Linked DNA regions of Homo sapiens: region 1 is linked to region 2. The links come from fine-mapping of genetic effects on gene expression. A gene starts in region 2. The other region holds a variant in brackets. All regions are shown on one strand. Distances are from middle to middle.

Region 1 (16,509 bases), 36 kb after region 2:
GTTGTTTGTCTTTTGAGGCAGAGTCTGGCTCTGCCTATTAAGCTGGAGTGCGGAGGCACAATCTTGGCTCACTGCAGTCTTGACCTCCTGGGCTCAAGCAATCCTCCCACCTCAGCCTCCTGAGTAGCTGGGACTATAGGCATGCACCACCACGGCTGATTAATGTTTGTAATTTTTTTTTTTTGTAGAGATGAGGTCTCACTGTGTTACTCAGGCTGGTCTCCATCTCCTGGCCTCAAGGAATCCTCCCACCTCGGCCTCTGAAAGTGCTGGGATTACAGGCATGAGCCACTGCGCCCGGCCTCATCCCTGGCTTTGAAGAGAGAAGGAGAGGCTTCCCAGCACTCAGAGGGACAGGAAGGAAGTGCCTTTCCAGCCTCAGTTGTGTACCCAGCACAGCAATACTGGTAAGAAATCAAGATAGCAAAGTCCTGCTTCTGCCTTTTTCTAGAACAGATGTCAGCAAGCTGTTCCTGTAAAGGAATCAGGATAGCAAAGTCCTGCTTCTGCCTTTTTCTAGAACAAATGTCAGCAAGCTGTTCCTGAAAAGGCCAAAGTGTACATATTTTAGGCTTTCCACACCCTGTGGTCTCTATCGCAGCTGCTCAGCCCTACACTTTAGCATGAAAGCAGCCATAAACAATATCTAACGAACAGGCTGGGAGCTGGAGTTAGCACACAGGCCATAGTTTACCAACCCCTGTTCCAGAGGAAATGAAAAATCTCTTTCTGGGCTAGGCATGGTGGCTCATGCCTATAATCTCAGTACTTTGGGAGGCTGAGGCAGGAGGATTGCTTAAGCCCAGGAGCTCGAGGCTGTAGTGAGCTATGATTGTGCCACTGAACTCCAGTCTGGGTGACACAGCAAGATCCTGTCTCTAAAAAAAAAAAACACTTTTTGAACCTCAGTTTCCACATCTGTAAAATGGGATGATCTAGTACTTACCTACCTCCCTGGGTGGCAGTGAGGATTTAAAGTGATAAAGTATACAAAGTGTGGAACCTAGTACTTGGTGGCGGGGTGGGGCGCTCTCACTTTGTTGCCCAGGCTGGTCTAGAATTCCTGGGCTCGAGCGATCCTCTCGCCTTGGCCTTTCAAAGTTCTGGGATTACAGGCATGAGTCACTGTGCCTGGCCTGATTATTAGTATTAATAGTTGTCATAGTTGCTTAACAAACAGAAAGTGCTTTTTTGAGACAGGGTCTCACTCTGTTACCCAGGCTGGAAGGCAGTGGCACGATCATGGCTCACTGCAGCCTCATCCTCCCTGGGCTCAGGTAATCCTCCCATCTCAGCCTCCCGAGTAGCTGGAACTATAGGCATGTACCACCATGCTCAGCTAACTTTTAAAATTTTTTTGTAGAGATAGAATCTCACTGTGTAGACCAAGCTGATCTCAAACTCCTGGCCTCAAGCGATCTGCCTGCCTCGGCCTCCCTAAGTGTTGGGATTACACGCGTGAACCACCACACTTGGCCAGAAAGTGCTTCCACATATTAACTCACTTACACTTCATAACATCCTACAAGATAGGTATCCTCACCCCCAGTTTACAGATAAGGAAACTGAGGCCCAGCAGTTATAAGCTCAAGTCAGTCTGGCCCCAGAGCCTATGCTTGTAACTAGGTTTCTCTCTCTGTCTCTCTCTTTTTCATTATCCCATGTAACTCTCACAGCAGTGCCTTGAGATAGCTATTATTGGCCCTGTTTTGCAGATTTGGAAACTGAGGTTCAGTACGAGGAAATAACTGGTCCAAGGAAGTAAACACGGGCTCCACTGACCACAGGAGGCCAAGCTGGATTGCTGCCCAACATGTCAACATGCACTGCTCTGGCCCCCTCCTCCCTCGCTGTGCCTCCAGCTGTGTTTTCTTTGGATCTCTGCATGGCTTGGAGAAGCTGCGTCAGCCCATCTCCTCTCCTGCCCAGTCCCCACCCCCAACGCCCACCCCAGCTACCCCTCAGGGAGTGACCCCCTTCTCCTCACTCTGCCTGAGCATATGAGCACTGCAGCTCATGCGCCTGTGTTGGTCAGCATGGGTGCACCTGGGGACATGTGACAGGGGACCCAGCTGGAATGAGAGGAGGATTATCTGAGGAGGACAAATCTCAGGCCAGGAAGACCCCGATTACATCTCTCCAGACAGGCGAAATGATCATCTGTTTCCAGAATGCAACTGGACAAAACAGTCCGCGTGAGGGCTGGACATTTACCAAATGGGTAAAAGGAATCTAAAAGGGCTGGGGCTTGCTGAGTTCAGCCAGGCCAAAGCTGTGGACTGACTTTCCGTGATTTCTAAAGCTGGGAGATCTGTTGTTTTCTTCTTTCTTTCCCATTTCCTCCTTGAAGGCCAGTCCATTTTCTGTGTGAAGAACAGGCCACTTGGTGTCTGAAGTCACCTCCAGATTAGAAACTCAAGGATTCTAAGGTTCCTTATGAGGTGTTGCTTTCCCTGGGTCCTCGGTCCTAGGGCATTGTATCCCCACACCTGGTGCCTCTCCATCAGGGCTCGGATGTCAGCCTTGGGCAGCTCACTCTCTCTCTGACTTCCCTTTTCTTTTCTTCTTCATATCCCACCCTTCTTCCCAGTTTCTATGCCTCTGTCAGTCTGCTAGCTGACTCTGACTCATGGGGACCTCTTTCTGTGGTCCTCTAAGCCTCCTAACCGTCTGTGCTTTCCTTATACTCCACGTGGGCTTTCCAGCCTCTACTTGTTTTGAGGAAGAGGTGGAGGATCCATAGCAGCTCTGTCTAGATGTTTGGATTTCATAAGCCAGTCACAACATTTCAAAGTAAGTGAAGGGAGGGGGCCCCAAAGGAAGGGATTTTTTCCTTTGATAATAAGGATAGGCCACCATCTTCAGCCTAAGCTTGTCCCTTTTCTGCAGGGCTTGCTGAAATGTTGCAAGAAGTGGTCAACATAATGCAACTCGAATTTTTCCAGGTGTCCTAATACTGCAGGAGTCCCCCGCATAACCCAGGCTTTGGTCTAACAAGATTGCCAACCCCTAGCCAGGAATCATGAGGATGTCACCGCCCTCTGGCCTTCTTCCTCTCTTCCACCCAGCTAGATCCATATTTTAGCTCCCCCCCAACCCTAGCAAGTACCAAATCCTGCTCCTTTTCCAAGCTTCCCCATCACAGGTCATGGCACCAGCTTTATGCAGTGCTCAAGTCAAAAATATAGGAGTCATCCTTGACTTCCTTTTTTTGTTATACCCCACATCAGCAAATCCCGGTGTCTCTAACTCCAAAAGACGCCTCACCTTATGCCTGTAATCAAAGCACTTTGGGAGGCTGAGGTGGGAGGATCACTTGAGCCCAGGGGTTCAAGACCAGCCTGAGCAACATAGTGAGACTTTGTCTCTACAAAAAATAATTAGCCAGGTGTGGTAGCATGCGCCAATAGTCCCAACTACTTGGGAGGCTGAGGTGGGAAGATCGCTTGAGTCCAGGAGGTCAAGGCTGCAGTGAGCTGTGATTGCGCCACTGCATTCCCGCCTGGGCAACAGAGCGAGACTCTGCCTCGAAAAAAAAAAAAGATGCCCCACATCTATACAATTCTCTCTATCAGCACCAACACCACTTCAAGCCATTTTCATTGGTTACCGGGACAACCTGCCTTATCTCCCTGTCTCACCATTTCTCCTGTAGGTCTAGCCTCTCTACATCAATCTAAGTGATATTTTTAAAAATGGGAATCATAGAATTTTTCTATCCTGCTCAACATCCTCCCCATCACACACAAAATAAAACCCAGACTCTGGCCACGACCTCTGGAAACACTGCAGGTGAACTAGCTCCTGCCTACCTTCCTCTCCAAGCCCATCTTCTACCACTGTTGGGAACACACCAAGTGCCTTCAGCCTCAGACTTTCCTTAATTCTTTTCTCCACCAGACACATCATCCCACACACATACCCATGCAGAGTTACTCAGATCCCTACTCAAATGTCACCCCCACAGAAGAGGCCCCCTCTGTGTCATTACCTGTCATTCTGTTTGTTTAATTCTTTATTGCCTGTTTCTTCCAGTAGACTGCAAGCTCCCCAGGGCGGGGACAGGAGCCTGCCACTCTTATTCATGGCCATATGTCCAGTGCCCAGCACAGGGTCTGGCACACAGAAAATGCTCAATAGATGTTTGTTGAATTCAAGATGGCCGGGCACGGTGGCTCATGCCTGTAATCTCAGCACTTTGGGAGGTCGAGGCAGACAGATCACGAGGTCAGGAGTTCGAGACCAGCCTGGCCAAAATGGTGAAACTCCGTCTCTACTAAAAATACAAAAATTAGCCGGGCGTGGTGGCACACACCTGTAGTCCCAGCTACTTGGAAGGCTGAGGCAGAAGAATCACTTGAACCTGGGAGGCAGAGGTTGCAGTGAGCTGAGATCACACCACTGCACTCCCGCCTGGGCAAGAGAGCGAAACTCCATCTCAGGAAAAAAAAAAAAAAGATGTTTGTTGAATTCAAGATGGGGTGTTATTATCATCCCTAGACCCTTCAGAAGGAGCAGCTTTTATGGTGCACTCTGTAGCCCTGATCTAATCCCCGGCTGAGCCTCTAAGCTCTATGCTTTCTGCTGGTACCACCCATTTCCTTGCATTTAGCCGGGGTTATCTGGAGCTGGTCTGCAGCCAAGAATGTCATACTTTCCTAATCTCCCCAGAGGCCTGAGAGACGCCTAAGGTCATGGGAGGTGCCCCCACAGGATCTCAGTGGGCTGAGCAGAAATCGGGACTCCTTGACCTAACCCACCCCCAGGCCCCTTCTACCTCACCTTCCAGCAGGCTCACGCCTGTAATCCCAACACTTTGGGAGGCCATGGTGGGCGAATCACCTGAGGTCAGGAGGAGTTCGAGACTAGCCTGGCCAACATGGTGAAACCCCAACTCTACCAAAAATAAAAACATTAGCTGGGTATGGTCGTGGGCACCTGTAATTCCAGCTACTCAGGAGGCTGAGGCAGGAGAATTGCTTGAACCCAGGAGACAGAGGTTGCAGTGAGCCAAGATCGCACCACTGCACTCCAGCCTGGGCGACAGAGCAGGACTCCATCTCAAAAAAAAAAAAAAGTTGAACACAAATTTACCATACAGCAATTTCGCTCCTAAGGGTCTACCCACAGAAAAGGAAAATGAATGCATTTGTACATGAATGTTGATAGTAGTGTTATTCGTAATAGCCAAAAGGTGGAAACAATTCAACTATCAATTGGTAAACAAATAAAATATGGTATATCTGTATAATGCAACACTATTCAGCAATAAAAAAAGAATCAACTACTGATATATGCTTCAAAATGGATGAAGCTCAAAAACATAATGCAAAGTGAAAGATGCAAGCTGCAAAAGACTACATCTGTGTGATTCTATTTATATGAAATGTTCAGAAAAGGCAGCTCTATAGGGACAGAAAGCAGGCCAGTGGTTGCTGGGGGCTGATGGTGGGAACAGGAACTGACTGCAAACAAGCCCAAGAAATCTTTTAGGGTAATGGAAATGTTCTAAAACAGAACTGTGTTGACAATTGTATAACTCTATACATTTACTTAAAACAAATTTTATTTATTTATTTATTTATTCATTCATTTTTGAGACAGAGTCTCTCTCCTTCCCCCAGGCTGAAGTGCAATGGTGCAATCTCGGCTCACTGCAACCTCCGCCTCCTGAGTTCAAGCGATTCTCCTGTCTCAGCCTCCCCAGTAGCTGGGATTACAGGTGCCTACCACCACACCTGGCTAATTTTTGTATTTTTAGTAGAGACAGGGTTTCACCACGTTGGCCAGGCTGGTCTCGAACTCCTCACCTCCACCCTCCTCAGCCTCCCAAAGTGCTGGGATTACAGGCGTGAGCTACCGTGCCCGGCCTATTCATTTACTTATTATTATTATTTTTAGTAGAGACAAGGTCTTGTCTGGGTTGGTCTCTAGCTCCTGGGCTCAAGCAGTCCTCCTGCCTCAGCCTCCCAAAGTGCTGAGATTATAGGTGTAAGCCACTGTGCCCGGCCAGAATTGTATATGTATTTATTTATTTATTTATTTTTGAGACGGAATCTCTCCCAGGTTGGAGTGCAGTGGCATGATCTCAGCTCACTGCAACCTCCACCTCCCTGGTTCAACGATTCTCCTGCCTCAGCCTCCCAAGTATCTGGGATTACAGGCGCCCACCACCACGCCGAGCTAATTTTTGTATTTTTTTTTTTTTGAGACTGAGTTTTGCCGTTGTTGCCCAGGCTAGAGTGCAATGCGTGACCTCAGCTCACTGCAACCTCCGCCTCTCAGGTTCAAGGGATTCTCCTGCCTCAGCCTCCCAAGTAGCTGGGATTACAGGCATACACCACTGAGCCTGGCTAATTTTGTATTTTTAGTAGAGATGGCATTTCGCCATGTTGGTCAGGCTGGTCTTGAACTCCTGACCTCAGGCGATCCGCCTGCCGTGGCTTCCCAAAGTGCTGGGATCACAGGCGTGATAGAATTGTATACTGAAAACAAGTGAGTCTTGTAGTCTGTAAATTATACCCTAATAAAGCTGTTAAAAACATTTTCCTAGCTCGGGTTGAGATCTCTGGGTTAGATGTGTCCTGGGAACCCAGCTGGGACCCAGGCTGGGTGGGGTGTCCTCCTTTCTCTCCTTTCTAAGTCAGTTTTCTGTGATCTCAGACTTTCAGGAAGCTACCAGCTGTCGCTCTTGTTTCTTTTTTGAAGAAGTCTGGAATTCTGCAGACTCAGCTCATATGGGAGTAAACATCCTGGCTCTTGGCCACTCTGACTGAAGTGCAAAAATGAGCATCACGGCCGGGCACGGTGGCTCACGCCTGTAATCTCAGCACTTTAGAAGGCCGAGGCAGGCGGATCATGATGTCTGGACATTGATACTGTCCTTGCCAACATGATGAAACCCCATCTCTACTAAACATACAAAAATTAGCTGGGCATGGTGGCATGTGCCTGTAATTCCAGCTACTCAGGAGGCTGAGGTAGGAGAATCGCTTGAACCAGGGAGTTGGAGGTTGTAGTGAGCCGAGATCGCGCCACTGAACTCCAGCCTGGCGATAGAGCAAGACTGTCTTAAAAAAAAAAAGCGCATCACAGGGAATGGGTGGGAGAGTGGAGGGGACCACCACAGGTGGCCCACCCCTATCTTGATATGACCAAACGCCGCCTGGGATGCTGAGCACTAACCCAGAGCAAGGACTGAATTTGGACTCCAGGGTCCTGGTAGGACCTGCACCTCCCTTGCTCCCTGGCTGTGCTCAGGTTGACCAGCTCTCCAAACACACCCTCCCTTTCTATACCTCCAGGCCTTGGCACACGCTGTGCCCTCCCCTTTTCCTTGCCTACCTGGAAAATCTATTTTTCCAATAAGAATCTGTTCATTGTCATCTCCTCTGAAGCTTTCTCCTTTGTGTGCCCACCACCCCCAGCCCCTGCCATCCCTCCAGAGCCCTCATCTCCCTGTGGCAGAGGGTTCATGTATATGTCTGCCTCCCACACTGCTCTGTGGGCTCCCTAAGACAAACCGTCTGTCCGTCTTACTTATCGCTTATTCTCAAGACTCTAGGACAGGCCAAGGGAAGAAATGGAGGGAATAGTACACCACATCAGACGCTTCCAAGGCCAGGAAGACCAAGGGAGACGCCCCCATTCCTCTCATCTATTCTTGGCCTAAATGGCTTCTCTCATCTGGTCCCAGAATGGCCCAAGAGCCACTCCCTGTGGGAACCACAGTTTGGGGTGGAAGCCTCCTTTCCACAGCTTTCCGGGGGCCAGACCCACTTGCCTTGGAAACTCCCTTTGCATAATTTAAACTGCAGTGTAGGGTCCATGGCCAGCTCAAGCCCAGCCTAGGCGGGGGCAACCTGGAGTGGGATCCAGCTAGAGTCTCCCTTCCCCAGCTGCCAGGACCTCAGGGGATGAAAGTTCCCTCTCAGCAGCTTCTTGCTGCAGTGGCAGAGAACAAGGGGGTTAAGCTATGTGGCAACCTGAGCTGGTTGTTTATGTTTCTGCTTTAGTGTGGAGGCTTGGCTTTGTCCGGAGTTGAGGCAGGGGTCCTCAGAGGCCCTGGCAGCTAGTGACCAGCCAGGAGTGGTGACATAATTTTCAGGGCTAGGGCCGGACATGATGGGTCACGCCTGTAATCCCATCACTTTGGGGTGCCAAGGTGGGTGGATCACCTGAGGTTGGGAGTGTGAGACCAGACTTGCCAACATGGTGAAACCCCATCTCTACTAAAAATCTAAAAATTACCTGGACCCAGTGGCACGTGCCTGTAGTCCCAGCTACTGGGGAGGCTGAGGCAAGAGAATTGCTTGAACCTGGGAGGGGGAGGTTGCAGCGAGCCGAGATTGCACCACTGCACTCCAGCCTGGGTGACAGAGCAAGACGCTGTCTCAAAAAACAATATTCAGGGCTCAGGGCAAAATGAAAACGTGGGACTTTTGTTCCAAAATTATTAAGATTTTTAAGATGGTGACAGTAGAACATTAAACCAAACACAGACTTTTCTTTTTTATTATTATTTTTATTTTCATCTTGTTTTTATTTTTTGAGACAGGGTCTAGAGTGCAGTGGTGCAATCATGGCTCACTACAGCCTCGAACTCCTGGACTCAAGCAATCACCCCCTGCGTCAGCCTCCCAAGTAGCTAGGACTGCAGGAGCACCTACTATGCCCAGCTAATTATTACTATTATTATTTTATGTAGAGATGGGGTTCTATGTTGCACATGCTGGTCTTGAACTTTTGGCCACAAGCAATCCTCCCACTTTGGCATCCCAAAGTGCTGGGATTACAGGCATGAGCCTCCACACCCAGTAAGCATGGGCCTTTCTAAATCTATGCAGCCGGCCCTGGTGCCAGGGAGAGGAGCCCAGCTTATTCCAACCACCTCTCTCAGCCCAGACCTATTGTCTACCCAGGCTTCTTAGTTCAGAAAAGTAGCTGGAGAAATGGAAAGCCTTAGGATCTTTGCTCAACTGCTCATCCCTATATTGGGAATAAAAGACTCCAGGCTACTGACAGAGACTCGGCCACAGCAGGCAGCCCACAGGGTGCTGCCTTGGTGTTCCCACCACAGAAACCAGAGCCTGGAATAGAAACGGGGATACCTGGCCAGGCACAGT[GC/G]CTCACGCCTGTAATCCCACCACTTTGGGAGGCCGAGGCAGGCAGATTGCTTGAGGTCAGGAGTTCGAGGCCAGCCTGGTCAACACGGTGAAACCCCCATCTCTACTAAAAACACAAAAATTAGCTGGGCCTGGTGATGTGTGCCTTTAGTCACAGCTACTCCGGAGGCTGAGGCAGGAGAATCGCTTGAATCCTGGAGGCAGAGGTTACAGTGAGCCAAGATCACACCACTGCATTCCAGCCTGTGCGACAGAGGGAGATCCTGTCTCAAAAAATAAATAAATAAACGGGCTACCTGAAAAAGCCACCTAGACTTCAACCCAGAGTGGTCTGTTCATGGTCATCAAATATTTACAGAGGGTCAGGCACAGTACTGAGCATGGGGTTACAAGGGTGAATAAGCCCCAGGCCCCACCCTTAAGCAGCGCACAGCCTAGTGGATGAGGAAAATTGACAAACATTATGAGCTTAGACCATTGTGGTAGTACAAGAGAGGGAACCTGTCCTAGCCGGGGTAGAAGGAAGTTCAGGGAAGGCTGCCTGGTGGAGGCGACATCTAGGCTAAGACTCGAAGGCTGAATTAGGTCAAGAGGGGAAGAAGAGTAAGGGCAAACAGCATATGCAGAGACTCAGGAGCTGGACACGGTGGCTCATGCCTGAAATCCCAACACTTTGGGAGGCTGAAGCAGGAATATTCCTTGAGGCTAGGAGTTTGAGACCAGCCTGGGCAACATAGTGAGATCTTGTCTCTACAAAAAAAAAAAAAATTTAATGAGCCAGGTGTGGTGGTGGTGTGCTCCTGCAGTCCCAGCTACTTAGGGGGCTGAGGTAAGAGGATCACTTGAGCCTAGGAGGTCAAGGCTACAGTGAGCCTGGATACAAATGGAGACTCTGGCTCAAAAACGAACAAAACAAAGAAAGAAATAAACAAAAACACAAAGGATCAGGGTCATGAAAGAACCTGGCACATTTAGGGAAATTATGAAGTAGTTCATGGTAGCTGGGACTGGATCAAGAAGAGATGGTTTGAAGGTCCAGATCATGAATAAAATGAATGTGTGTAAAGTGCTTGACGTTGTGCATAGTAAATATTCTGCCATGGTAGCTCATTATAATTCTGGTTTTGTAGGCCAAATTAAGGGTTTGGGATTTTGTCCCGTAGTCAATGGGGAGACATTCAAGAGCTTTAAGCCCAGAGTGACTTGATGAGATTTGCTATATGGCCAGATCCCCGTGGCTCCTTGGTGGATTATGAACTAGAAGAGAAGCAAGGCTGGAGGATCAGAAGGCCACTTTGAAAATTAACAGGTATGGCCAAGCACAGTGGCTCACACCTGTAATCCTAGCACTTTAGGAAGCTGAGGTGGGAGAATTGCTTCAGCCCAGAAGTTAGAGATAGTCTTGGCAACATACTGACCCCATCTCTAGTTAAAAAAAAAAAGAGAGAGAGAGAGAGACTGGGCATGGTGGCTCACACCTATAATCTTAGCACTTTGGGAGGCAGAGGCAGGTGGATCGCCTGAGGTCAGGAGTTCAAGATCATCCTGGCCAACACGGTGAAACCCTGTCTCTACTAAAAATACAAAAATTAGCCAGGCGTGGTGGCGTGTGCCTGTAATCCCAGCTACCTGGGAGGCTGAGGCAGGAGAATTGCTGGAACTTGGGAGGCGGAGGCTGCAGTGAGCTGATATTGTGCCATGGCACTCCAGCCCATGTGACAGAGCCAGACTCAATAAACAAATAAATAAAGCCAGGCACGGTGGCTGATGCCTGTAATCCCAGCACTTTGGGAGGCCGAGGCGGGCAGATCACTTGAGGTCAGGAGTTCGAGACCAGCCTGGCCAACATGCAGAAACCCTGTCTCTACTGAAAATACAAAAATTAGCCAGGTGTTGTGGCGGGTGCCTGTAATCCCAGCTACTTGGGAGGCTGAGGCAGAAGAATCACTTGAACCCAGGAGGCAGAGGTTGCAGCAAGCTGAGATCGCGCTACTGCACTCCAGCCTGGGCGACAGAGCGAGACTCTGTCTAAAAAAATAAATAAAAATAAAAATAATTTTTAGAAAAGAAATTGAGAGGTATGGCAGGTGGGAGGCTTCACTTATATCCCTTAACAATAGAGTAGATAAACATACAGTGGAAAACAAAAAAACAGCAATGAAAATGAACTCACCACAGCTATATGAAACAACATAAAGGAGTTTTGCAAGTGTATTCTTGTGCAAAAGAAGGCAGACACAAAATAATACTGTATAATTCAATTTACATAAAGTTCAAGGAACAGACAAAACGAAACTACAGTGTTTAGGGACACATTCTCAGGTGGTACAACTCCAAAAGCAAGGAAGCGATTATCACAAAAGTAGTTGGAACACCAATTACCCTGCAGAGGTCTTCTGCTTGACTGTTCAGTACCATGGCATGGGTGATGCTAACCCAGGCTCACTTTTTGATAAATCATTAGGTTTTACATTTATGTTTTGTGCACTTTTCCATGTGTGCTATTCTTTTTTTTTTTTTTTTTCTTGAGACGGAGTCTCGCTCTGTTGCCCAGGCTGGAGTGCAGTGGTCTGATCTCGGCTCATCGAACCTCTGCCTCCCAGGTTCAAGCGATTCTCCTGCCTCAGCCTTCTGAGTAGCTGGGACTATAGGCATGCACCACCACACCCAGCTAATTTTTTTGTATTTTTAGTAGAGACGATGTTTCACTATGTTGGCCAGGCTGGTCTCAAACTCCTGACCTTGTGATCTACCCGCCTCGGCCTCCCAAAGTACTGGGATTACGGGCGTGAGCCACCATGCCCAGTCTATTTTGTATACATTTTTTTGAGACAGGGTCTTGCTCTGTTGCCCAGGCTGGAGTGCAGTGGCATGATCATAGCTCTCTGCAGTTTTGACCGCCTGGGCTCAAGTGATCCTCCCACCTCAGCCCCCTAAGTAGCTGGGACTACAGGTGTGTGCTTCCGCACCTGGCTAATTTTTGTGTTTTTTGTAGAGACGCAGGTTTCACCATGTTGCCCAGGCTGGTCTTAAACTCCTGGACTCAAGCAATCCACCCACCTCCACCTCCCAAAGTGCTAGAATTACAGGCATGAGCCACTGCGCCCAGCTATGTTTAAGACACGGTCTCTGTCGCCCAGGCTGGAGTGCAGCTAACTGCAGCTTCGACGTCCAGGGCTCAAGTGATCCTCCCACCTCAGACTCCCAAGTGGCTGGAATTACAGGCCCATGCCACCATGCCCGGCTAATTTTATTTAAAACATTTTTCAGAGACAGGGTCTTGCTACATTGCCCAGGCTGGTCTCTTAACTCCTGACCTCAAGGTATCCTCCCACTTTGGCCTCCCAAAGTGTTGGTGATTACAGGCATGAGCTACTGTGCCAGTCTATCATACACTATTTTTTTTTTTTTTTTGAGACGGAGTCTTGCTCTGTCACCAGGCTAGAGTGCAGTGGTGCGATCTTGGCTCACTGCAGCTTCTGCCTCCCAGGTTCAAGTGGTGTCCCTGCCTCAGCCTCCGGAGTAGCTGGAACTACAGGCGCGTGCCACCGTGCCCGGCTAATTTTTTGTATTTTAGTAGAGATGGGGTTTCACCATGTTGGTCAGGATGGACTCGATCTCCTGACCTCATGATCTGCCCGCTTAGGCCTCCTGGGATAAAGTGCTGGGATTACAGGTGTGAGCCACCACACCCAGCCCCATATGCTATTCTTAACAATAAAAAGGTTTTAAAAATTTGTCTTTGGGAGGCTGAGGTGGGTGGATCACCTGAGGTCAGGAGTTCGAGACCAGCCTGGCCAACGTGGTGAAATCCCGTCTATACTAAAAATACAAAAAAAAAAAAAAAAAAAAAAAAAAAAACTAGTCGGGCATGGTGGCGGGCACCTGTAATCTCAGCTACTCGGGAGGCTGAGGCAGAAGAATCACTTGAACCTGGGAGGCAGAGGTTGCAGTGAACCGAGATCGCGCCACTGCACGCTAGCCTGGGCGACAGAGCAAGACTCCTTTTCAAAAAACAAAACAAAATTGGGCTGTGTGTGGTGGCTCATGCCTGTAATCCCAGCACTTTGGAAGGCTGAAGCAGGAGGATTGCTTAAGGCAAGGAGTTCAAGGTTACAATGAGCTATGAGTGCACATCAGTCTGGGAGATAGACTGAGACTCTGCTTCTAAAAAAAAGGGGGGTAGGGGTGGGAAACGCCAGCTCTTAAGGTAGTCATTAGAATGGTGAGAAGAGGTTGGGTTTTGTTTTGTTTGAGACGGAGTTTTGCTCCTGTCACCTAGGCTAGAGTGCAATGGTGTGATTTCGGCTCATTGCAACCTCTTCCTCCCGGGTTCAAGCGATTCTCCTGCCTCAGCCTCCTGAGTAGCTGGAATTACAGGCGCTTGCCACCATGCCCAGCTAATTTTTGTATTTTTAGTACAGATGGGCTTTCACCCTGTTGGCCAGGCTGGTCTCAAACTGCTGACCTCAGGTGATCCACCCGCTTTGGCCTCCCAAAGTGCTGGGATTACAGGCGTGAGCCACCGCACCCAGCTGAGAAGAGGCTGGTTTTGACATGCGGAAAGTGAGCAAACGGAGAAGATGAGGCATGTATCAGGTGAAAAGCAGTGCTGAACACTGTGAGATAGAGAAACCTTTAAGATACTTAACTATCCAGGCCGGAGGCGGTGGCTCACGTCTGTAATCCCAGCACTTTGGGAAGCCGAGGTGGGCGGATCACCTGAGGTGGGAAGTTCGAGACCAGCCTGACCAACAGGGAGAAACCCCGTCTCTACTAAAAATACAAAATTAGCCGGGCGTGGTGGCGCATGCCTGTAACACCAGCTACTCAGGAGGCTGAGGCAGGAGAATCGCCTGAACCCTAGAGGCGGAGGTTGCAGTGAGCCGATATTGCACCACTGCACTCCAGCCTGGGCAACAAGAGCGAAACTCCGTCTCAAAAAAAAAAAAAAAAAAAAAGATTGAACTATCCAGGGCCACTGTGTCCACTCAGACCAGTCACATCGCCTGAATCTAGATCCCTTCTTCACAAAACAGGGAGGCCAGAGTGGTTTAATGGAACCAGCCCTGCATTTTGGTGTTGAGAACTCCGGGCTTAAAATCCCAGTTTTGTTACTTGTTGATGGCTGTGTGAACCTGGACAATGACTTCGCCCCTGCCCCTCGCTCCAACCTGTTTGCTCATGTGCAGATTTAGGTAATAATTCACAGAATTCCATGATAAAACAGAAGACTAGGCACTTGGGATGTTTGGTATCTTGGTTATCAATTAAGAGAATCTGAACAATGAATGAGAAAATACTTTGAAAACATAAAAGAATAGATAAAAGGCCGGGCGCGGTGGCTCACGCCTGTAATCCCAGCACTTTGGGGGGCCGAGGCGGGCGGATCATGAGGTCAGGAGTTTGAGACCAGCCTGGCCAACATCGTGAAACACCGTCTCTACTAAAAATACAAATAAAATTAGGTGGGAGTGGTGGCGGGTGCCTATAATCCCAGCTACTTGGGAGGCTGAGGCAGGAGAATTGCTTGAACCCGGGAGGCAGAGGTTGTAGTGAGCCGAGATCGCGCCACTGCAATCCAGCCCGGGCGACAGTGCGAGATTTCGTCTCAAAAAAAAAAAAGGGTAATAATCACTACATGGTTTTTAAACTTTAGTGAAAGCGCGGGCTAGCTGGGGGGCATGAGCATGGAAAACTGGTTATCCCGTAGGTCAAGAGCGACCACGTAGTTTACTGCCCAAAGCAGTACTTTTTTTTGAGACAGGAGTCTCACTCTGTCGCCCAGGCTGGAGTGCAGTGGCGCGATCTCGACTCACTGCAACCTCTGCCTCCCGGGATCATGTGATTCTCCTGCCTCAGCCTCCCGAGTAGCTGGGATTACAGGCGCGCGCCACCAGGCCTGGCTCATGTTTGTAATTTTAGTAGAGACGGGGTTTCGCCGTGTTGGCCAGGCTGGTCTTGAATTCCTGACCTCAGGTGGTCCACCTGCGTCGGCCTCCCAAAGTGCTGGGATTACCGGGGTGAGCCACCACGCCCGGCCCAAAGCAGGGCACTTCTGAAAAAGGAGGCAATATTAGTAATTATGCCAGGGCAGCAGGCATAAATCAAAGCTGGCCCCCCACCCTTCCAGAACTGAGACAGGACCCAGGAGTCTGGTTTCCCATCAGGCCTCTTATCTGAACGAGAAGCTCTGCGAGGGCAGAACTGCTGTGCCTATATAGAGCTGGCTTATTTCTGGAGGGCTCAAATCTACTTGGAGCAATGCTCATGCCACTGTGAGATGATCACGGCTAACCGATTCAGCACTTAGGAAGCGCCAGGTATTGCGCTGAGGACTTCACATGCATCACCTGAGTTAATTCTCACCAAACCTTTATGAGGTAGGCGGATTTATTATCTTCCACTGAGGAAACTAAAATTTAAATTGGTTAACTCCTTCAAGGCCACACATTTTGGGTGGAGGAGCAGGGATTGAAATCAGATGAGGATCATGAACCCTCGTTCTCAATTACTACTCATATCGGTGCCTCCGTTTTTCTTGAGCGTCCGCCTGCCTGCCCCCACGCTGGCGTGCAGCCAGGACCATGGACATCTGAGAGGCTACTCAGCCGGGGTACCTACAGCCCCTGGCTCCACACAAGCGCCGGTCTGACAGCAGGTGGCAAGCTTTTCCTCTTCTCAAGCTAGCACTGGAAGGGATGCTTGCTGGGGAGACCGGAGATGGGTGGAGCTACCACTCGGACGCCTGCAGGCTCCTACCAAAAAGAATCCTGCAGGGAGCCGGATGAGGAGCACCTCACAGCTGCCAGTTCCCTGCCAGGCTACCCGCTGTAGCTGGTTTGAGGGCTCAGTGAGGCTTTGAACTGCAACTAATGGCCACAGATGTCAATGTTGGAAAGGCCCTACAATGCATTTAGTTGATTTCCCAACTCTGCCGAAAGCCATCTCTATTACTTGCCCCCGAAGGCTAGTTTAAGTTGCTTCTACTCAAGAGCATTTACAGCTTGGGTTCGATGTATATGTAGCCCGGGCATGGGGCAGGGCTTCTTAACATTTGGACACCACGCAGCACAAAGGCCCAGAGAGGGAAAGAGACTGGCTGGAAGAGGCAGAGCCGCGCGGGTGCCAGGACCCAGGTCCTTGCTACGTCCGGAGCCTACGTCACCACGATGCCTCCCCTGGGCCGGCGGCAGAACCCGAGACCCCCGCAGGTTCTAAGACAGCCCCCACGCCCCCCAGTGCGCACGCTCAGTCCAACCCCGCCGCGCACCGCCCACCGCGAACATCCGGCTCCTGCGTGTGTGCTCGAGGGGGAAACTGAGGCGGGGACGTGCCAGTGAATTCATTCCTTCCTCAGTCCACCCGCAGGCCTACAAAGCTG
Region 2 (8,000 bases):
CATGTGCCTGCTCCCACCGCGCCCCCTCCACAGCACCCTCTGGCTCCGGATGGGCCATCATGAAAGCTTGAGCGGCCCAGATCAGGTCCTCTTCCCGAACTCCTGGGACGGGCACGGTGGGGATGCCAGCGATCATCATGGCGAGGGTGAGGATGCAGATATCAGGCTGGGAGCTGGCCTCCTTCCCCACTGCCTCAGAGGGTACCGGTAGAACCCGTGGTGACAGCCCACACAGCATCAGGGGCCTAGGCCTGCTGGGGCCACCCAGGTCAGGGGCTCTGCTTCTGGAGTAGCCATTGTCCCAGCCCAAGCTCTCCAGCTGCCTCACATGCGGGAATTTGTGGCAGTTTCGGCTGTATTCCTTCCGTAGTGTCTCCCAGCTAGTCCCCCCAGGGCAGCCCCTGGCTTGTGGCATTGCCAGGGCTGGGCCCCAGGCCTGGGCAGCAGGTGCCACCTGCTCAGCTTTCTGGCTCAGTGGGCCTGTTCCACCAGAGGCCACCACCACTGGCTCTACAGGACTACAGAGGCCAAGGGACAAGCCTGGAGAAGCAGCCCCACCTGCAGAGACAGGAATGAAATGGAACGTTATTCTCAGTTCTTTGAGGAGGGGGCCCTGAGGGGCAGGGCATGGGAGCAGAGCTTGGGGGCGTAACTAAGACCAGCCCCAGCGGACTGTCTAGAGGTTGGGAACTAGGTGTTACTCATATCCACACTCCCAGTCCCCAACACGGAGTAGGTGATGGAGAAGCGTTTGTTGAATTAATGAATAGTGAGCAAGCGGGTAGTTATTGATTGGCAAGGATGTTTGGAATGGCTTTTCTTCTAAAAGAATTGATTCTAGGGCCAGCCCCCAAATGCCCAGCAGAACCGCCACCTCCCCAGAGCCAGAAAGCAACTTCTCAGGGGAAGCTGCCGCACTCCCTCCAATTGCAGGTGCCCCCCGCTCACCTTGGCCGGAAGGCAGAGGACCTGGATGAGTTTGTGGAGTCCTGAAGTAGGACATGGCTTCCCCAAAGCCCCGGTTTGTGAGGGAATAGTGATCTGCCGCCTGTCCTCCCTTCTTCACCCTTCTAGAATGTCACCTCATAGACCCTCCCCTTCACACTTGGAATCCACTTTACAGCGTTGACCTATTCATTCTAGAACCTGGACATGACAATAGGATGAGGTTAAAAGAGCACCAGACCAGGAGCTGGGTGTTCTAGGTTCTTGCCCTAACCTTGAACGAGTCACCCAGATAGTTTTGTTCCTTGATATCCTTATCTGTAAAGTGTGTCTGATGACTGCCCACTACCTCATTAGGAGTTTTGAGGATGAAATGAGATCATTTGTATGGAAGCAGATGACCAGAGATGGAAACACAGGAGCCAAGTGCTTCGTGCCTTGTAGAGTAAGACTTCGGGTCAGACCCAGTATTGGTATTTTTCTTTTTCTTTTTTTGAGACAGAGTCTCACTTTGTCGCCATGACTGGAAGGCTGGAGTGCAGGAGCAAGACCTCAGCTCACTGCAACCTCTGCCTCCTGGGTTCATGCAATTCTCCTGCCTCAGCCTCCCGAGTAGCTGGGACTACAGGAACCTGCCACCACACCTGGCTAACTTTTGTATTTTTAGTAGAGACAGGGTTTCACCATGTTGGCCAGGCTGGTCTCAAACTCCTGACCTCAAGTGATCTGCCCACCTCGGCCTCCCAAAGTGCTGGGATTACAGGCCAGGTATTGGTATTTTTCAAAATTCCTCAAGTGATTATAATATATGACAAAGTTGGAACCTTTTTTCTAGGGACATACTTCTCAACCCTGGCTGTACATGAGAATCTCTTGAGAAGCTTTTACAAAACACAATGTCTAGGCCTAATTTCCCAACAAATCAAATACGAATCCCTAGGGATGGGATGTGGGACACCAGCACTCTTTACATATCCTAAGATGACTCTAACAAGCAGCCAGCCTAGGGACCCCTGCTCTTTTGCTCCGACCTGCTGACCTGCAGTGATTCTAAACGAAGTGACTCTCATAGGCTGTAGGGGCAAGGAGACCTTCCAGTGATCAAGATGTCAGCATCGGCTGTTTATTTCTGGTCTTGGCTGGCAGCAATGTGGCCAACTTCGGACCAGCCAGCCACAGGTCTGGGGCTCCAGGATGCAGCTGTGCTCTGGTGCACTGTGGGTCTTCACTCATACTTGCAGAAATCCTTAAGTTCTTTGGGCAGGTGGAGCCCATCAATGGCCAGCCGGTGCACCATGCTCCTTTGTATCACTAGGCGGCACAGAGTCTGCAGGGATGGCACTGTGGGAAGAAGACTGTGAAAGGCAAACTGAACTGGAGGGTGGGTCTGAGGCCAAGATCCAGAAGGTCTAGGTCATGGTCCCCACTTTGTCATTAAATGTGGGCAAGTCCTTACTGCTCTCTGGGCCCAGCCTGCTTCATGGGGCTGAGAGAAGCACCTCTTCCTGAGAGCTGCCACAAAGCTGCAGCCCTGTTTATATCATAACACTTAGCACAATCCCTTCCCCATTCACTTAGCAGCTTCTGGGGGCAGGGGTAGTGTCTGATTTGCCTGTGCAACTGAAGCCTCCAGCACAGGCCTGGCACAAAGAGGGTTCTGGTGCATTGAGTTCATGAAATGTGATGAGAGGTATAACTGCAATGCTTACCAGGGCTATAATGAATCATACTCAGCATTAAGAAGCTCTCAGTCTGGGGTTTGTTATGCCTCGAAGCCAATAGCCAATATGCCCAAGTCTATGAGCATGTTTCTTTCTTTTCTTTCTTTTTTTTTTTTTATTTAAAGAGAGAGGGTCTTGCTCTGTCACCCAGGCTGAAGTGCAGTGCTCAGTGAACTGCAGCCTTCAATTCTTGGGCTCAAGCGATCCTCCTGCCTTAGCCTCCCAAATAGCTGGGACTACAGGCATGCACCACCATGCCCAGATAATTATTTAATTTTTTGTACAGATGGGGTCTCACTTTGTTGCCCAGGCTTGAGCTAGCTAGCTTGCTTGCTTGCTTGCTTTCTCTCTCTTCCTCTCTCTCTCTCTTTCTTTTTTTTTTCAGAGTCTTGCTCTGTTGCCTAGGCTGGAGTGCACTGGTGAGATCTCGGCTCATTGCAACCTCCACCTCTCGGGTTCAAGTGACTCTCCTGCCTCAGCCTTCTGAATAGCTGGGATTATTGGCACATGCCACCACACCCAGCTACTTTTTGTATTTTTAGTAGAGACAGGCTTTCACCATGTTGGCCAGGCTGGTCTCGAACTCCTGGCCTCAAGTGATCTGCCTGCCTCCCCCTCCCAAAGTGCTGGGATTACAGGTGTGAGCCACTGTGCCCGGCCAAGCATGTTTCTAAGAAAAGGGCAAACAATTCTCAAAGAGGCCCCTAATATCTAAAATTGGTTTAGAATCCCTGCCCTAGGTGAATACAGGAAACACTATCAAAACTAAAAGGGAACTTGTAGGGCATCTTAATCAATCAACCAAGATAGGTACCAAGGCCCAAAACCATGTAGAGGCTTGTGCAAGATCACAAGCAGAGGTGCAATTTGAAGCTAGATTCTCCCACTCTTAAACTAGTGCCGGACAGACGAAGGCCTAGCACATGGGCTACGGAGCCCTAGTAGATTCCAGTCCCCACACTGAGCCAGGAGGGGTCGCTGCCCAGGGATACCTACAGCCATACTCGAGCTGGACAAGGCGCACGCTCTTTGTGGAAGCAAACACGTCCACCACCGCGTAGAGGGGCTGCGCAGCTGGCAGTCCCCGGGCGCTCGGGCCCATGTCCTCGCCGTTGATGATGATGTGCATGTCGGCCGTGCCATCGGGGCGCGGGCAAAAGAGGACACCCAGGCGGCTACGGCGCGCGGTCGGAGGCAGCACGTTCAGCTCATAGAGCTGGTCCAAGAGATGGCTGTAGAGCCCTGGCCGGCTGCGGCCCACCAGGCGGTCCCGGGGAATGCGAAACTGCTCAATGCGCAGATATGGTTCCACGAGGAGGGTTGGAGGTCGGCTGGGGGCCGCTGCCTCCGCCTCCGGGCGGCCCTCCCGGGGCACGCGGTTGTGGTGGCGCGTGATGGCGAAGACCCAGGTGTGGCCCAGGTTGACCAGATCGGGCAGAGAAAACTCGGGAACGGGGGCCAGACTGGCGGGGTCCAGCGCGGTCAGACCGAGACGCAGATGTCCGCACCAGCCCAGCTCTTTCTCCTCGATCTCGACCAGGAAGACCTGGCCCGGGGCCAGCGGCTCGCGGCTGAAGCACACGCCGTGGGCGAAGCTCTCCACGCGTGTGGCCCGCGTCCCAGAGGGGTCCACGCGGATGTTGGCACCGTGCACCCGATGGAAGCGGGTGGGAGGGGGCTCCGGGCGCTCGAGTCCCCAGAGTGCACCCGAATCCACGGGCTCGGAGGCAGCAGCCATCTCTCGGCCATAGGGCAGGCCAGCTGGCGCCGGGGGCTATTTTGGGCGGCGGGCAATGATGGTGACCGCAAGGCGACCTTGTAAGGCATTTCCCCCCTGACTCCCTTCCCCGAGCCTCTGCCCGGGGGTCCTAGCGCCGCTTTCTCAGCCATCCCGCCTACAACTTAGCCGTCCACAACAGGATCATCTGATCGCGTGCGCCCGGGCTACGATCTGCGAGGCCCGCGGACCTTGACCCGGCATTGACCGCCACCGCCCCCCAGGTCCGTAGGGACCAAAGAAGGGGCGGGAGGAAGACTGTCACGTGGCGCCGGAGTTCACGTGACTCGTACACATGACTTCCAGTCCCCGGGCGCCTCCTGGAGAGCAAGGACGCGGGGGAGCAGAGGTGAGCTGGCACCGGAGGCTGGAGGGGATCCCCGAGCCCGGGATCGGTGCGCGGCAGAGGAGGCTCGCGGGTGGGAGCTGGCGCTGGGGCCGGGGCTTCCCTCGCGGAGGCGCCGCCAGCAACTCCCCGGGGGCTGCTGCACGGAAGCGCTGAGGAGCGAGTCAACAGCCCCTCTGCTGCCTCCCGTAGATGATCCGAGCCGCGCCGCCGCCGCTGTTCCTGCTGCTGCTGCTGCTGCTGCTGCTAGTGTCCTGGGCGTCCCGAGGCGAGGCAGCCCCCGACCAGGACGAGATCCAGCGCCTCCCCGGGCTGGCCAAGCAGCCGTCTTTCCGCCAGTACTCCGGCTACCTCAAAGGCTCCGGCTCCAAGCACCTCCACTACTGGTCTGCCGCCCTGCCTTCTGGGCGGGATTGGGAGAAGAGATGACGGATGAGGGATGGGGGGTAGTTCTGCAGACCCCTGAGGATGCCTGGGAGCCGGGAGGGCTGGAAAGGGCCCCTCCAACTGCGCCAACCCTGCCCTGACCCCCCTCCCAGGTTTGTGGAGTCCCAGAAGGATCCCGAGAACAGCCCTGTGGTGCTTTGGCTCAATGGGGGTCCCGGCTGCAGCTCACTAGATGGGCTCCTCACAGAGCATGGCCCCTTCCTGGTGAGTGGACAGCAGGGGGAAAGCACAGTTCCCAAAGTAAAAGGCTGGGGAAAGCGAGAGAGGGGCTTTGTGATTTTCCAAAAAGTTTCCTTCCTTCTAAGCCTCGGGATTTTCCTCTATGCCATTGGCTTTGCTGCCTGTACCTCTCAGAGGTTTTACCCACATGTAAAGTGCCTCTCATGGTGGCCCTTTCCCTCCACCCAGCTGGCCCTTGGGACTTACTCAGCCATCTCTTTCCTCCTCAGGTCCAGCCAGATGGTGTCACCCTGGAGTACAACCCCTATTCTTGGAATCTGGTATAGCTGGAGCTGTGGGTGTGTCTGGGCACTTGGATGGGGTGGCATTTAGCTAATTTTTCCCTCCCCTCTAGATTGCCAATGTGTTATACCTGGAGTCCCCAGCTGGGGTGGGCTTCTCCTACTCCGATGACAAGTTTTATGCAACTAATGACACTGAGGTGAGTCTGGTGCCTGCCCATCTGCCCCAGGCTCCCCGGTCCTCCATCCATGGCATGATGCTGGGAGAGAGAGCATGGCCTTGGAGTCTACTTTTCGCTCTGTCATATGCTATTGTGGTATGGTGGCCAGTCACTTCCTCTTGCACAAATAGGGTGGGTTAATGTCATTATCTCTGAAGTTCTTTCCAGTTCAAATACCAAAGCTTCCTGATTCCCTCTGTCTTGCTCTGCCATCCCCAGGTCGCCCAGAGCAATTTTGAGGCCCTTCAAGATTTCTTCCGCCTCTTTCCGGAGTACAAGAACAACAAACTTTTCCTGACCGGGGAGAGCTATGCTGGCATCTACATCCCCACCCTGGCCGTGCTGGTCATGCAGGATCCCAGCATGAACCTTCAGGTGCAGGGTAGCTGCAGGAGGGAAGGGAGGTAGCTTGAGGCTGTGGCCTTACAGTTAGCAAGGTCAGACTGACTGGTCAATGTCCCCATCCAACCCAGCTTCCTGCATAACCTCCCCACCACCGGCTGCCCTAGGTCTGTCTGTGTGCCTCCCACACAGGAAACTCACCTGTCAGGCTGCCAGCTCTGTGTTTTGCATTGAGTGGCCTCTCATACCCACCGGCCTACATAAACCACCCTGGGTTTCAGCTTCCGGATTGCTGAAGGTCTGGGTGGTAGGGTGAGGGAGGCTCTTCCTTTTTGCCCTCCACATGAGCTGAGCACCCTGGGTGTTTCACAGGGGCTGGCTGTGGGCAATGGACTCTCCTCCTATGAGCAGAATGACAACTCCCTGGTCTACTTTGCCTACTACCATGGCCTTCTGGGGAACAGGTATGGGATAGGGCAGTTGGGCAATCTCTGGGGTGAGGCAGGTCACATGATCTCAGGTCTGTCCTCCAGGCACATGATATGACAGGCCCAGCCCAGGTTTATGAGCAGCAGGTGGGTTGCAGAAAGAACCTAGTGCTGAAAGGCCAAAGAATAGAGATCAGTTTTTCTTTCTTTCTTTTTTTTTTTTTTGAGACAGATTCTTACTTTGTCACCCAGGCTGGAGTGCAGTGGCACGATCTTAGCTCACTGCAACCTCCACCTCCCAGGTTCAAGCAATTCTCATGCCTCAGACTCCCAGGCAGCTGGGACTACAGGCGCGTACCACCACACCTGCCTAATTTTTTGTATTTTTAGTAGAGATGGGGTTTTGCTGTGTTGGCCAGGCTGGACTTGAACTCCTGGCCTCAAATGATCTTCCCAAAGTGCTGGGATTACAGGCATGAGCTACAGCGCCCAGCCAGAAATCAGATTTTAAAGGAACTAAGGAGGCCTGTCTGTATGACCCTGGGGCACCTCTTTGGGAGCTAGCTTAGATGACATACAGACCACACCCTGTGATATCTTTCCCAGTCTCCTAGGGTCAGGGAGGTTGGTGGGAGGTGGGGGGTATGCTCGCCTCCTCTGCCTTCCTCTTCCCACCAGCAGCTGATGCGCTTTTCACTCTCATCTCCTACAGGCTTTGGTCTTCTCTCCAGACCCACTGCTGCTCTCAAAACAAGTGTAACTTCTATGACAACAAAGACCTGGAATGCGTGACCAATGTGAGGTTCTGCCATCACTTTGCATGAGCTCTCCCATCCCTAATCCTGAGAACAGGACCACATTCCCTCCTTGGGGACTCCTTGTTCTCCGTCCCTCATTGCTTTCTTGCACCTTTAAGCAATTTAGTGTTCTCTGGGACATGTGTCTAAGTGTGTATTCCCACCACCACCTCCTATGGTGGCAAATCCCATAACCTCCGTGAGGAGAAAGGACTTCTTCACATTTATCAAACACCTGCAACGTGGCAGGCACTGTGCTGAACTGTGTCTATGTAGATTATTTAAGCTTCAAGATTCCCCCTCAAATGAGATCATACTACCCACATTTTCCAGATAAGGAAACTGAGGGCTATGAATTTTGAAATCACTGTCTGAAGTCACAGTGTTGGGAGGCAGTGATGCTAGGATTTGGACCCAGGTCTGGGAAGATTCCTGCCACTGAGCCTCAGTTTCCCTACCTGTGAAAAAAAGTGGGTGAAGAGGTGAAATCCAAGAGCAGTAAATCTTGGGACAAC

Alleles and levels. Alleles are on the strand shown, and positions count from the first base shown. SD is a standard deviation of normalised expression in the study named.
For the expression in lung of the gene that starts at base 4,621 in region 2, G is the high allele of the variant in region 1 and GC is the other (small effect, 0.31 SD a copy in GTEx).

The links.
Region 1: its variant is fine-mapped to the expression of NEURL2 in lung (GTEx, PIP above 0.99). The same link has a PIP of 0.9 or more in spleen.

The regions. Positions count from the first base shown.
Region 1 is chr20:45,918,011-45,934,519 of GRCh38, forward strand. It overlaps LOC107985388 (pre-mRNA-splicing factor cwc22-like), which reads right to left. Exons shown (of 1, transcript NR_171669.1): 1 at 15,484-16,509. Among named protein-coding and RNA genes, the nearest start is that of PCIF1, 8.4 kb to the right of the region's middle. RefSeq lists a silencer at 6,560-6,854 and enhancers at 9,300-9,594, 14,599-15,291, 15,574-15,723, 15,983-16,509. The variant GC/G (reference allele first, on the strand shown) is at 9,126.
Region 2 is chr20:45,886,588-45,894,587 of GRCh38, forward strand. NEURL2 (neuralized E3 ubiquitin protein ligase 2) reads right to left here and starts at 4,621. Exons shown (of 2, transcript NM_080749.4): 1 at 3,663-4,621; 2 at 2,047-2,286. The coding sequence starts at 4,404. The coding sequence ends at 2,171. SPATA25 (spermatogenesis associated 25) reads right to left here and starts at 1,035. Exons shown (of 2, transcript NM_080608.4): 1 at 949-1,035; 2 at 1-558. The coding sequence starts at 1,003. It overlaps CTSA (cathepsin A), which reads left to right and starts at 4,748. Exons shown (of 15, transcript NM_000308.4): 1 at 4,748-4,792; 2 at 4,982-5,175; 3 at 5,329-5,440; 4 at 5,686-5,736; 5 at 5,811-5,897; 6 at 6,138-6,293; 7 at 6,633-6,724; 8 at 7,401-7,485. The coding sequence starts at 4,982. RefSeq lists enhancers at 1-246, 247-747, 4,086-4,795, 5,035-5,084 and a silencer at 4,725-4,994.